3 separate regions of the Homo sapiens genome follow, and all the other regions are linked to region 1. Evidence: fine-mapped expression QTL. A gene starts in region 1. Each other region holds a variant in brackets. All regions are shown on one strand. Distances are between the middles of the regions. Region 1 holds the start of BAIAP2L2 (BAR/IMD domain containing adaptor protein 2 like 2). Region 2 has its middle 9.5 kb from the start of PLA2G6. Region 3 overlaps PLA2G6 (phospholipase A2 group VI).

Region 1 (4,000 bases):
GGTGTGGGCCCGGCACTCACCAAGGCTGCTTCTCACCAGTGCACGGATCCAGACGGGCGGGCTGTGGACCGGGCACGGGCCTGGTGCGAGATGGTCGGCATCCAGTACTTCAGGTGAGGGCTCAGCCGCCCCAGCCCTTGGCCCCGTGCCCTGGCGTGGTCGGACTCACCGACCTTCCCCTCCCAGCCCTAGTGTGGACTTTCCCTTCCCCAAGGGTCTGCTCTGTTCCCCAAGCCCACCCTGGTCCTAGCTGGCGTCCCCTGCCCAGCCTGAGCATCCTAGGGTGACCCCCTCCTCCCTGGCCCGAACAGATTGAACCCCCAGCTGGGGACGGACATCATGCTGGATGAGGTCAGTGACACAGTGCTGGTCAACGCCCTCTGGGAGACCGAGGTCTACATCTATGAGCACCGCGAGGAGTTCCAGAAGCTCATCCAGCTGCTGCTCTCACCCTGAGGGTCCCCAGCCTCTCACCGGCCCCAGCTGACCTCGTCCATTCAGCCCCTGCCAGGCCAAGCCCAGCCACTGCCCTCCCGGGCAGATCTGGGCCCAGGCACCTCTGAGTCCATAGACCAGGCCTGGGAGAATGCCAAGCTGCCTGCCCGAGGCTGGTCCTGAAGGCCTGTCTCCCACTAACCCCGCCTTCCAGCACTTTCTGTCATTCCAGGCTGGGAAAGTCTAGAGCCCCCTTTGGCCCCTTTCCCTGACTGTCAAGGACAACTGACTCCCCCATCAGCTCAAACATTAAGGGTACCCGGGCACAACCGTACCCCTGCCCCCAGCCCCAGCCTCCCTGAGGGCCTGCCGGGCTGCCTCTGCCCCAGCCCCCAGCAAGGGCACTCCCAGGCTTCCTGGTGGGTGCAGCCCACTCCCTCTGCCCTCTGCTCCGTTCCCTGGGGGCTGGGACTAAAGAAATGGGTGTCCCCCACCCCATCAGCTGGGAAAGCCCAGGCCGCAGGAGTGGGATGCCCGTTGGACTTTGCCCCTCACACTGGCCCAGCCCCTCACACTGCCCCACCCCGAGAACCCTCAGCTCTCAAAGGTCACTCCTGGGAGTTTCTTCTTCCCAATGGAAGTGGCTTAAGAGCCAAAACTGAAATAAATCATTTGGATTCAAGTTCACCTGTGTTGTGTGTGCAGTGGTGTGAGATCCACCTGTTCCCCTGACCCCCGGCTCCCCTCGGCCTTGACCCTTGGCCTTGACCGGACTTTTCCTTTGTACCCGGACACTCTGTTTTCCAGGATCCCTGGGCAGGGACACCTCCTCTTTCCTCTAGGCCTCCCCTAAACCGGCCCTTAGGGTATGCAGAGGCAGCTGCCAGGCCCACATACCCCCGGCAGGCCCAAGGAGGGCCACAATCTTCAACTTCATCTTGGAGGACCAGGGAGAGCCCCATTTGTCACCCAGAGAGGCCGGGGACTCCGCGTGGACAGGCAGCGCGTGTGCAGGGCCGAGGTCTGCCCAGGGCTGGGCAACTCCAGCGTTTGTGCTGCTCCTGCTCCGGCAAGTGGAGGAGCTGGGCGGGCCAGAGCGGCTGTGGGAGCCAAGCTCAGAGGGCGTGGCCCCACTGTGAGCCGCAGGCCTGAGGACAGTGAGAAGTAAAGCGGCGTTCCCCTCCAGGGGCTGCTGCTGCTGGGTCTGGCAGAGAGAGTCCTGGGGGAGGGCATCGGGCAGCGCCCGCCCAGTAAGGTGGGCAATGCCTGGTATAGGCAGGTGGGAGGGCGGGGCCCCCCAGGGTTGGGGTCCTTGAGGAGGGGGTGACCCAGGAGGGGGCTCATCCACATGGGCACTTGTATCAGCCCACAGCTCCAAGGGGTGAATAATTGAAGGGCAGGTCACACGAGCCTGCCCGGCACAGGATGCCTTCCCTGCCGGATCTGGTTACGCCCCAGATCACATTCTGACATCCCGAGTTGGTGAATAATTAAGCTGCCACTCCTCTGAGGCAGGCCTCCATCTCCAGGTCCCTCTCCGAGGCTTCCTCGCTGCCAGCTGAGTCGTGGGCACCTGAGGGACTACCTACCACTGCTCCCGGCTGTGCCATCGCCACCAGCTCCCAGCCTCCTGCTCAGACCCGGGACAGCCCCTCCATGGCCCCCGAGATGGACCAGTTCTACAGGTCCACCATGGCCATCTACAAGGTGAGCACATGGGTGGCCAAGCCAGGCCTGAGCCCCTCCTCCCAGGGCACAGAAATCAGGCCCGCTCTGGAGGACGGAGGGCCAGCCGGGGCTACAGATGTCCTGGAAAGGGAAGCCTGGAGCCAGGCTGGGCCAGGGGTGGGTACGGGGGTAAGGATCCCCGAGAGCACTCAGCCATACAGCGGGAACCCCCAACTCCCAGATGCTGGACAAGGCAGGAGGGAGCCCAAGGCCCAGGGTGGGGAGAGTTGAGTCTGGATGAGAAGGGCCTGGCTGCCCGGCCTGGGAATAAAGAAAGACCCTCCCTCTCTCTCTCTGTCTCTCCCTCTCTCTCTCTCTCTCTCTCTCTCTCTCCCTCTCTCTCTCCCTCTCTCTGTCTCTCTCTCTCTCTGTCTCTCTCTCTCTCTGTCTCTCTCTCTCTCTCTGTCTCTCCCTGTCTCTGTCTCTCTCATTTCTGAGCCCCTCAGACTTCCTACTTCACCCCCGGGGGGTTGTTGCAGCCGCCACAGACATTTATTGAGCGCCTCCTGTGTGCAGGACCCTTTCACCTGGAGGCCTCACACCACCCACCTGTGAGGTGGAAAATGACCACCCTGCTTGATAGATGAGAAAACTGAGACCAAAGAGGTTAAACAGCTCATTCAAGGTCACGGAGGGAGGAAGAGGTGCTGCTGGGATTTGAACCGAGACCCAAGTCCAAGTCCAGGCCCAAGTCCAGGCCCGTCTTCACCATCCGGGGAGCTCTCTGCCCGGCCCCAGCCCGAGGAGGCCCACACTAATCCAGCCACAGCCTTGCCCATGGGGGGCTGTTCTCGGAGGAGGGCGAGAGCTGCCCTTGCCCCGGGGGTGACTGTTGGCAGCCCCAGGCGTGTAGCCCGGCAAGGCCTGGACACAGGGCAGGGCTGAGCCGTGCCCAGTGGGGACCACAGCAGGCGGGCCAGCTTCTGCCCAGCGGGAGGAGGAGAACCTTCCAGGTGCACCATCTCGGGAGGCACCTCGGTCCCGCCAGAGCAGACGTAAGCGGGAGCTGGCTGTGAGGGGACCACAGCTTAGAACAGGACCCCAAAAGATGGGCTCTGAGGTCCCTGCAGCCAAGAGCCAGGATTCTGGGTGAGCCTAGGTTTGTAGATGGGCCCCCCAAAGTCTGGGGCTTCTCACTGGGCTGGGGGTGCCCTGTCCCTGACGCCTGGTGACTTGACTCCATCCGTGGTTCCTTCTCGCTCCCCCATCTCTACACCTTTTTCCTCCCCTGACCCTGGGGTCCAGAGCATCATGGAGCAGTTTAACCCCGCCCTGGAGAACCTGGTGTACCTGGGCAACAACTACCTGCGTGCCTTCCACGGTGAGTGCCTGCCCGGGCCACCGAGCCCCAGCCCTGGGCCTCTGCTGTTCCCACCCACCCAGGCCCCTCCCAGATTCTCTGCATCCCACACCTGTTCATCCTCAACCCTACACCCTCCTACCCACCACCCTCACCCTCACACCTCTGCAGCCAGAGAGGCCTTATGCACCCCCACTCTCCTGTGCCCACGCACCCCAGTCCACACCCAGCACCCCTCATTGCCCCCTCCTTCAGGTGCCTCCAGACACTCCCATGATGCAGTACCAGGCCCTGCAGGCCCACACAGCCCCAGGGCAGCCCCTGACAGTGCATACATTTCTAGGCGTCACCTGGATGCCACCAGCTGAACCCACCCCTATACTCAGTCCCACCTCTGCACCCAGGCTCACACAGCAGCTGGCTTCCTCACTTCAACTGGCCACCACCCACACACCCTGCAGCTGGCCTTGACATTCACTCGGTCCCCGTGCAAACCCTTGTACCCGTCCGCTGTGGCCGCTCATACCTGCCAATAGC
Region 2 (4,267 bases), 81 kb before region 1:
TAGCTGGGACTACAGGCCCCCGCCACCACGCCCGGCTAATTTTTTGTATTTTTAGTAGAGACGGGGTTTCACCGTGTTAGCCAGGATGGTCTCGATCTCCTGACCTCACGATCCACCCGCCTCAGCCTCCCAAAGTGTTGGGATTACAGGCGTGAGCCACTGCACCCGGCATTTTTGTATTTCTAGTAGAGACAGGGTTTCACCATGTTGGCCAGGCTGGTCTCGAACTCCTGACCTCAGGTGATCCACCCACCTCGGCCTCCCAAAGTGCTGGGATTACAGGCATGAGCTACTGTGCCCGGCCTATTCTTCCCCTCTTTTTGGAAACACTGTTTTCTCCTTGGTGTTTTTGTCTTTGTTTTGAGACAGGGTCTCCCTCCCTTGCCCAGGCTGGAGTGCAGTAGTGCCATCATAGCTCACTGTAACCTTGAACTCCTGGGCTCCAGCCATCCTCCCGTCTCAGCCTCCCGAATAGCTGGGGTTACAGGCATGCAGCCACATGCCTACCTCCCCTTGCCTTCTAAAGCTCAGATTTCCCTCCTATCTTTTCAGCTTTCATCCCTGGCCCTCCATCTTGGCCTCTTAATTCTTAGCGAGGCTCAGAGCTTTAGCCTTTGCCCTCTTTTCTTATTGCTGGGGAACCTTATCCCTACCTCAAGATTTCAGGTGCCACCTGATGTTGAGGACTCCCAGATCTCTATTTTGGGCTCCCAGCTGTCTCTCATGGACCAGATCTGCTTAAGCAACTGCATGGATGACATGTATTTTCCCCTGCCCTTCCCTGGCACGTCTAACTCCACGTTGTCTCAGTGGAGCTTAGCGCCACCCTCCCCACCTAATTTCTCCAACAGGTTGATGATGCCACCTCCTCCCCAGTCACCCTGGAGAGAAACCAGGCCATCATGCTCACCTCACCCTCTCCCTCCCTCCCACAGCAAACAAGTCACCAGGCTTCAGTGATCTCATCTCCTTAACTTCTCTCCAGCCTCTCTCTTCCCTCAGCCATGGCCTCTGTTCAAGCCACAGCACCTGGCTCCAGGACAATTGCAGCAGCCTTCTGCCTGGTCCCCCTGCCTCTAGCCTCCATGCAGAGGATAGAGAGAGCTTTCTAAAACCTAAACTTGGCCAGGCTACTGCTCTGCTCACAACCCTTCCATGGCTCCCCAGTGCTGTCAGGACAAAGTGTAAACTCTTTCCATAAGCCTCCTCGATCTGGCCTCTGCCTGCTTCCACCACCTCCTCTCAGCTGCAGCCACCGTGAACTCTGTCCTCATACCCATCATTCTCTTCTACTGCCTCGTGCTTTCAATCTTCCCAGTCCTTCTTCCTGGAACTCCCTCCCCGGCTTGTGCTTCAGTCCCCAGCTCAGATGCCACTTTGTTCAGCAGGCTTCCCAGATCATCCCCAGGCTGACTCAGGTTCCTGTGTACAAGGTAGGAAACCTACCAGTGTATCCCTCATGATAGCACTTTCCTCTCTGACTCGGTGTTCTGTGTCTTCATGGCTGTCTTCTCTTAACCCACATGCTTTTTGAGGACCAGGATTACATCCTTTCATTTTTGTGTCTCCAGAGCTTTGCCCGGGCCATGGCACATAGCAGAAGCATGATCAATGTTTTTCTTTCTTCTTTTCTTTTTTTCTGAGACACAGTCCTGCACTGTCACCCAGGCTGGAGTGCAGTGTCGTGATCTCGGCTCACTGCAACCTCTGCCTCCTGAGTTCACGCGATTCTCA[C/T]GCCTCAGCCGCCCAAGTAGCTGGGATGACAGGCGTGCATCGCCACGCCTGGTTAATTTTTTTTTTTGTATTTTTTATTTTAGTAGAGATGGGGTTTCACTCTGTTGGCTAGGCTGGCCTCGAACTCCTGGCCTCAATGATTTGCCTGCCTCAGCTTCCCAAAGTACTGGGATTACAGGCGTGAGCCACCATGCCCTGCCTAGGCCACCGTGCCTACGCTGGGAGCATGATGAATGTTAATGGGATGAATGGAGGAGTTGTCCTTGTTCCACTGGGCCTTGTCCTAGGCTCAAGCAAGAGGGTCAGGCTGTGGCGAGACAGGGAGGAAGGAAGAGAGTATCATTAGTTTCTAAGAACAGGGGTCCCTAACCCCTGGTCTGGGTCGATGGCCTGTTAGGAACTCGGCTGCACGGCAGGAGGTGAGCGGCGGGCGGGTGAGCGAGTGAAGCTTCATCGATATTTACAGCATATTTACAGCCGCTGCCCATTGCTCACTCACATTGCCACCTGAGCTCCACTTTCTCTCAGATCAGCGGCGGCATTGGATTCTCATAGGAGCTCAAACCCTATTGTGACTTCGCATGCGAAGGATCTAGGTTTTGCATTCCTTATGAGAATATGATGATCTGTCTGCCTGATGATCTGTCACTGTCTCCCATCACCCCCAGATGGGACCATCTAGTTGCAGGAAAACCAGCTCAGGGCTCCCACTGATTCTACATTGTGATGAGTTGTATAATTATTTCATTATGTATTACAATGTAATAATAATAGAAGTAAAATGCACAATCAATGTAATGGACTTGGATCATTCCCAAACCATCCCCCGGCTCCGTGGAAAAACTGTCTTCCACAAAACCAGTCCCTGGTGCCAAAAAGGTTGGGGACCTCGGTCCTACAATGTCCTTTGGCTCCCTGACAGTGGGGACTGTGTTTATATCACTGATTGCCCTCATGCCCTGTGTAACGCTATGGCAGGGCAGCCAAACACGGATTGATTCTCTGGAGATCCCTGCAATTCCGTTTCATTACCATTGCATCCTGGGGGCACAGTGATTCAGCCTACTCATGAATGTGTGATTTGCAGTAGAATTTCAGGAGCCCCTGGGACATAAAAGAGGATTATCAGGGCTGGGTGTGGTGGCTCACACCTGTAATACCAGGACTTTGGGAGGCCAAGGCAGGAGGATTGCTTGAGCCCAGGAGTTCAAGACCAGCTGGGGCAACATAGCAAGCCCCATCTCTACAAAAAAAATTTTTTTAAATTAACCAGGTGTGGTGGTGCTCTCCTGTGGTTCCAGCTACTTGGGAGGCTGAGGTGGGAGGATTGCTTGGGCCCAGGAAATGGAGGGTGCAGTGAGCCACGTTTGAGCCACTGCACTCCAGCCTGGGTGACAAAGCAAGACTCTGTCTCAAAAAAAAAAAAAAAAAAGGTAGGGGCTGGGCACAGTGGCTCACCCCTGTAATCCCAGCACTTTGAGAGGCTGAGGTAAGCAGATAGCTTGAGGTCAGGAGTTCAAGACCAGCCTGGCCAACATGATGAAACCCCATCTCTACTAAAAATACAAAAATTAGCTGGGCTTGGTGGTGGGCGCCTGTAATTCCAGCTACTCGGGGAGGCAGAGGCAGGAGAATCGCTCGAACCCGGGAAGTGGAGGTTGCAGAGAGCCGAGATCATGCCACTGTACTCCGGCCTCGGCGATGGAGCAAGACTCTATCTCAAAACAATAAAAAATAAATAAAAAGTATTTTGGGGTGATACACACATTCAGACCATAGAACATGCGATGATATGGAAAAATATATTTGCCTTTATATTCCAGTGCTTTTTCACAATAAACTATTATCTGTATATCTGAGACAAGTTTGTATTAAATTGTGAGCCCCAAGGACAAGAATAGAGATGTCTTTAGTGTCCCCACCATACTAAGAGTAAGGCCGGCCAGGCATGGTGGCTCATGCCAGTAATCCCAACACTTTGAAGGCCGAGGTGGGCGGATCATGAGGTCAAGAGATTGAGACCATCCTGGCCAACATGGTGAAACCCCGTCTCTACTAAAAATACAAAAATTAGCCGGGTGTGGTGGCACGCGCCTGTAGTCCCAGCTGCTCAGGAGGCTGAGGCAGGGGAATCTCTTGAACCCAGGAGGCAGAGGTTGCAATGAGCTGAGATCGCGCCACTGCACTCCAGCCTGGCAACAAAGCGAGACTTTGAGTCAAAAAGAAGAAAAGAAAAGAAAAAGAGTAAGGTCATGCACATAGCAGGTATTTCATAATTAATGGCTGACAAAACATAAATGAGGACGAGAAGCACAAGAGAAGGGACAAAGGGATTAAGAGCTTGCACACTCTGACCCTCAAGAACTCCACATTAGATTCCCCCATCGTGAGAGGCTTGGCACACACCCTGCATCTTTGCCTGAAATACCCCTGCTCAGCCTCTCCAAATCCTCATGTCCTTCGCCATCCTTCACCATCCCTCACCATCCCTAACCATCCCCCACCATCCCTCTCCATCCCTCTCCATCCCCCA
Region 3 (4,267 bases), 42 kb before region 1:
CTGTCGCCCAGGCTGGAGTGCAGTGGCGCGATTTCCGCTCACTGCAAGCTCTGCCTCCCGGGTTCACACCATTCTTCTGCCTCAGCCTCCCGAGTAGCTGGGATTACAGGCGCCCGCCACCACGCCTGGCTAATTTTTTGTATTTTTAGTAGAGATGGGATTTCACCATGTTAGCCAGGATAGTCTCGATCTCCTGACCTTGTGATCCGCCTGCCTTGGCCTTCCGAAGTGCTGGGATTACAGGCGTGAGCCACTGTGCCCAGCCTGCTTGATTCTTTTAAATTATTTCAATCTCTTTGCTAAGTTTATCTGTTAGGATTCTGAATTCCTTCTCTGTGTTAGCTTGAATTTCACTGAGTTCCCTCAAAACAGCTATTTTGAATTCTCTGTCTGAAAGGTCACATATCTCTGTCTCTCCAGAATTGGCCACTGGTACCTTAATTAGTTCATTTGGTGAGGTCATGTTTTCCTGTATGGTCTTGATGCTTGTGATGTTCGTCAGTGTCTGGGCATTGAAGTTAGGTATTTATTGTAGTCTTTGCAGTCTGGGCTTGTTTGTATCTGTTCTTCTTAGGAAGACTTTCCAGGTAATAAAAGGGACTTGGGTATTGTGATCTAAGTTTTTGGTCACTGCAGCCATATCTGCATTAGGGGGCACCCCAAGCCTACTAATACTATGGCTCTTGCAGACTCGTAAAGGTACCACTTGGGTGGTCTTGGATAAGATCTGGAAGAATTCTCTGGATTACCAGGCAGAGGCTCTTGTTCTCTTCCCTTACTTTCTCCCCTAAAAGTGGAGTCTCTCTCTCTGTGCTGGGCCGCCTGGAGCTAGGAGAGGGGTGACACAGGCACCTCTGTGGCCACTATCACTAGGACTATGCTGGCTCAGACCTGAAGCCAGCACAGCACTGGGTCTCACCCAAGGCCTACAGTCTCCACTGCCTGGCTACTGCCTACGTTTGCTTAAGGCACTAGGGCTCTACAGTCAGCAGGTGGTGAAGCCAGTGAGATTATGTCCTTCCCTTCAAGGCAGCAAGTTCCCCCTACCCCCATCCTGGGAAGGTCCTTAGATGCCATCTGGGAGGCAGGGCCTGCAGTCAGAAACCTTAGTAATCTCCCCAGTGCTCTATTCTATTACAGCCTGGCTGATACCCAAGCCATAAGGCAAAGTCCTTCCTGCTCTTCCCTCCCCTTTCCACAAGCAGAGAAGTCTCTCTCCATGGCCACCACTGCCCCAGCCCTGTGGCAGTGCTGCCAGGCCACTGCCAACGTTCATTCAGGGCCTAAGGGCTCTTGAAGCAACTGAACACTGCCAGGCCTGGGACTCTCCCTTTAGGGTAGTGGGCTCCCCTCTGACCCAGGGCAGGTCCAGAACTGCCACCCCACAGCCAACACTTAGAATCTGGGACCCCAAGAGCCCTCTTGGTGCTCTGCCACACTGTAGCTGAGCTGGTACCTAGGCTGATTTTTGCTTTTTATGAAGGTACTTTTTTGTGTGTATAGTTCAATTTGGTTTTCCTCCAGGGAGGACAATTGGTGGAGGTTTCTATTTGGGCATCTTTTTTTTTTTTTTTTGAGACGGAGTTTTGCTCTTTCACCCAGGCTGGAGTGCAGTGGCGCGATCTCGGCTCACTGCAACCTCTGCCTCCTGGGTTCAAGCGATTCTCCAGCCTCAGCCTCCCCAGTAGCTGGGATTACAGGTGCCTGCCACCATGCTTGGCTACTTTTTTTTTCAATTAAAAAGTAAACTTTAATGTCGAAAATGCAAACTTGGGGAAGGCAGAAAGATCACACACAAGGCTGTCGCTTCACACTTGGAAGGTTGCACGGCGGCCAGGAGAGGC[A/G]CTCCTCACTTCCCAGACAGGGCGGGGGCCGGGCAGAGGCGCTCCTCACTTGCCAGACGGGGCGGCGGCCACATGCCTGGCTAATTTTTGTATTTTTAGTAGGGACGGGGATTCTCCGTGTTGGCCAGGCTGGTCTCAAACTCCTGACTTCAGGTGATCCACGCACCTCGGCCTCCCAAAGTGCTGGGATTACAGGCATGAGCCACCGCGCCCAGCCCTATTTGGCCATCTTGCTTTGCCTCCACCTTCATTTGATAACAGAACACCCCCATGTAACCACCACCACAATCAAGATATAAGACATTTCTGTTATTCTCCAAATTTCCTTCACCCTCCTTTATAGTCCATGGCACCCACCCCATCCCTGGGCAACACCTATGTGCTTCCTTTTTTTTTTTCCCCGCAGGAGGACGTCTTCCTATACCTATGTGCATTCCATCACTGCTGCTTTTAATCATATAGCGTGTAGTCTTATGAGTCTGACTTTTTCACTTAGCATAATGCTTTTGCAATTTGTGATTGAGCGTTTTCATATGATTCTGTTTTTTCTGTCTCTTAGCTTGGAAGTTATACACTTTTTAGTAGTAACTGTTGGGAGATCGTTCTCCAAGAGTCTCTCTCATATTTCCATACATCCTGCTAGCAGAGACATTGACTACCTGTTTTTGTCTGTTTAGTGTTGCTATAAAGGAATACCTAAGTCTGAGTATTATACATAGAAAAGAGGTTTTATTTGTCTCATGGCTCCTCAGGCCATACAAGAAACATGGTGCCAGCATCTTACCAGTGTCACATGGCAAGAAAGGAAGTGAGGAAGAGAAAATAAGTTGTTAACTGGTTGTTAAAAAGTGCCAGGCACGGGCCAGGCACAGTGGCTCGTGCCTGTAATCCCAGCACTTTGGGTGGCCAAGGCGAGTGGATCACCTGAGGTCGGGAGTTTTGAGACCAGCCTGACCAACATGGAGAAACCCTGTCTCTACTAAAAAAAATACAAAAAAATTAGCTGGGCATGGTGGTGCATGCCTGTAATCCTAGCTACTCGGGAGGCTGAGGCAGGAGAATTTCTTGAATCCAGGAGGTGGAGGTTGCAGTGAGCCAAGATCACCTGGGCGACAAGAGCGAAACTCTGTCTCAAAGAAAAAAAAAGTGCCAGGCTCTTTTTAACAACCAGTTCTTACAGGAACTAATAGAGTGAAAACTCACTCACCCCCACCCCACAGGGAGGGCATTCATTCATGAGGGATCCACCCCTATGACCCAAACACCTCCCATTAGCCCCCCACCTCCAACATTGGAATCAAAATTTAACATGAGGTTTGGGGGGCAGAAATCCAAATTATAGCACTACCTTTGTTCCAGGCTACCTTCAAAGGATGTTTATACAGCAAACAGCCTTGGAAAATAGAGTTAGGGTCTCCTTGTAGAGCACAGGGTAAGTTTGCTTACTTTTCAGCATAATCAAGATTGTGTCTTCTTCTGGAGCAAAACTTTGACAACAACAAGCGGGGCAAAGTCTGAAACCTTTTGCACATCTTGACAGAACCTTAGAGATTACGAGATTTATCTCTGCCTTACTCAAGGTCCATTAGTATCTTCCAGAACAATAAGTTGGTCTTAGAATCCTTTAGCTATGTATTCCCTTCCAGGCTTCGATGCTGTGTGCTGTTGTTTTATTTAGTTTTTATTTTAAACCCAACAAGACGCTATACCATCAATACTTATTTAGATCCCCCCACATATTTAACTTGCCATGGTGCTTCATTCTTTCATGCCTCTTTAAGCATCCATCTAGGATCGTGTTCATTCCACATGAAGAGAAAGCTTTTGGCCCAGCACGATGGCTCACACCTGTAATCCCAGCACTTTGGGAAGCCTAGGCGGGAGGATCGCTTGAGCCCAGGATTTCCAGACCAGCCTGGGCTACGTGGCAAAACCCTGTCTCTACTGAAAATACAAAAAATTAGCCAGGTGTGGTGGTTCACGTCCCTGCTACTCGGGAGGCTGAGGTGGGAGGATTACTTAAACCTGGGAGGTTGAGGCTGCAGTGAGCGTTGATTGCACCACTGCACTCCAGCGTGGGTGACAGGAGTGAGACCATGTCTCCAAAAAAAAAAAAGAAGGAAAGAAAAAGCTTTTGTATTTCCTTTCGTGTAGGTCTGCTAATGACAAAGTCTCTGGGTTTTTTGTTTGACTAGAGAAATGTTTTAATTTTAACCTTATTCTTGAAGGTTTTGTTTTTGTTTTCATTTTGTTTTGTGTGCTAAGTACAGAATTCTCATTGGCATTTATTTATTTAGAGACAGAGTCTTGCTCTGTGGCCCAGGCTAGAGTACAGTGGCACGATCTCCGCCTCCCAGGTTCAAGCGATTCTCCTCCCTCAACCTCCTGAGTAGCTGGGGCTACAGGCATGCACCACTACACCT

What was found. PIP is the estimated chance that this variant, and not a neighbour inherited with it, causes the effect.
Region 2: its variant is the best candidate, but not a certain one, in a credible set for the expression of BAIAP2L2 in subcutaneous fat (GTEx, PIP 0.50).
Region 3: its variant is the best candidate, but not a certain one, in a credible set for the expression of BAIAP2L2 in whole blood (INTERVAL, PIP 0.51).

Annotation. Positions count from the first base shown.
Region 1 is chr22:38,108,617-38,112,616 of GRCh38, reverse strand. It overlaps BAIAP2L2 (BAR/IMD domain containing adaptor protein 2 like 2), which reads left to right and starts at 1,933. Exons shown (of 14, transcript NM_025045.6): 1 at 1,933-2,142; 2 at 3,409-3,484. The coding sequence starts at 2,092. It overlaps PLA2G6 (phospholipase A2 group VI), which reads left to right. Exons shown (of 17, transcript NM_003560.4): 16 at 40-113; 17 at 312-1,122. The coding sequence ends at 456.
Region 2 is chr22:38,189,199-38,193,465 of GRCh38, reverse strand. No RefSeq gene overlaps it. Among named protein-coding and RNA genes, the nearest start is that of PLA2G6, 9.5 kb to the right of the region's middle. The variant C/T (reference allele first, on the strand shown) is at 1,735.
Region 3 is chr22:38,150,944-38,155,210 of GRCh38, reverse strand. All of the region lies in intron 2 of PLA2G6 (phospholipase A2 group VI), which reads left to right. Among named protein-coding and RNA genes, the nearest start is that of PLA2G6, 29 kb to the left of the region's middle. The variant A/G (reference allele first, on the strand shown) is at 1,845.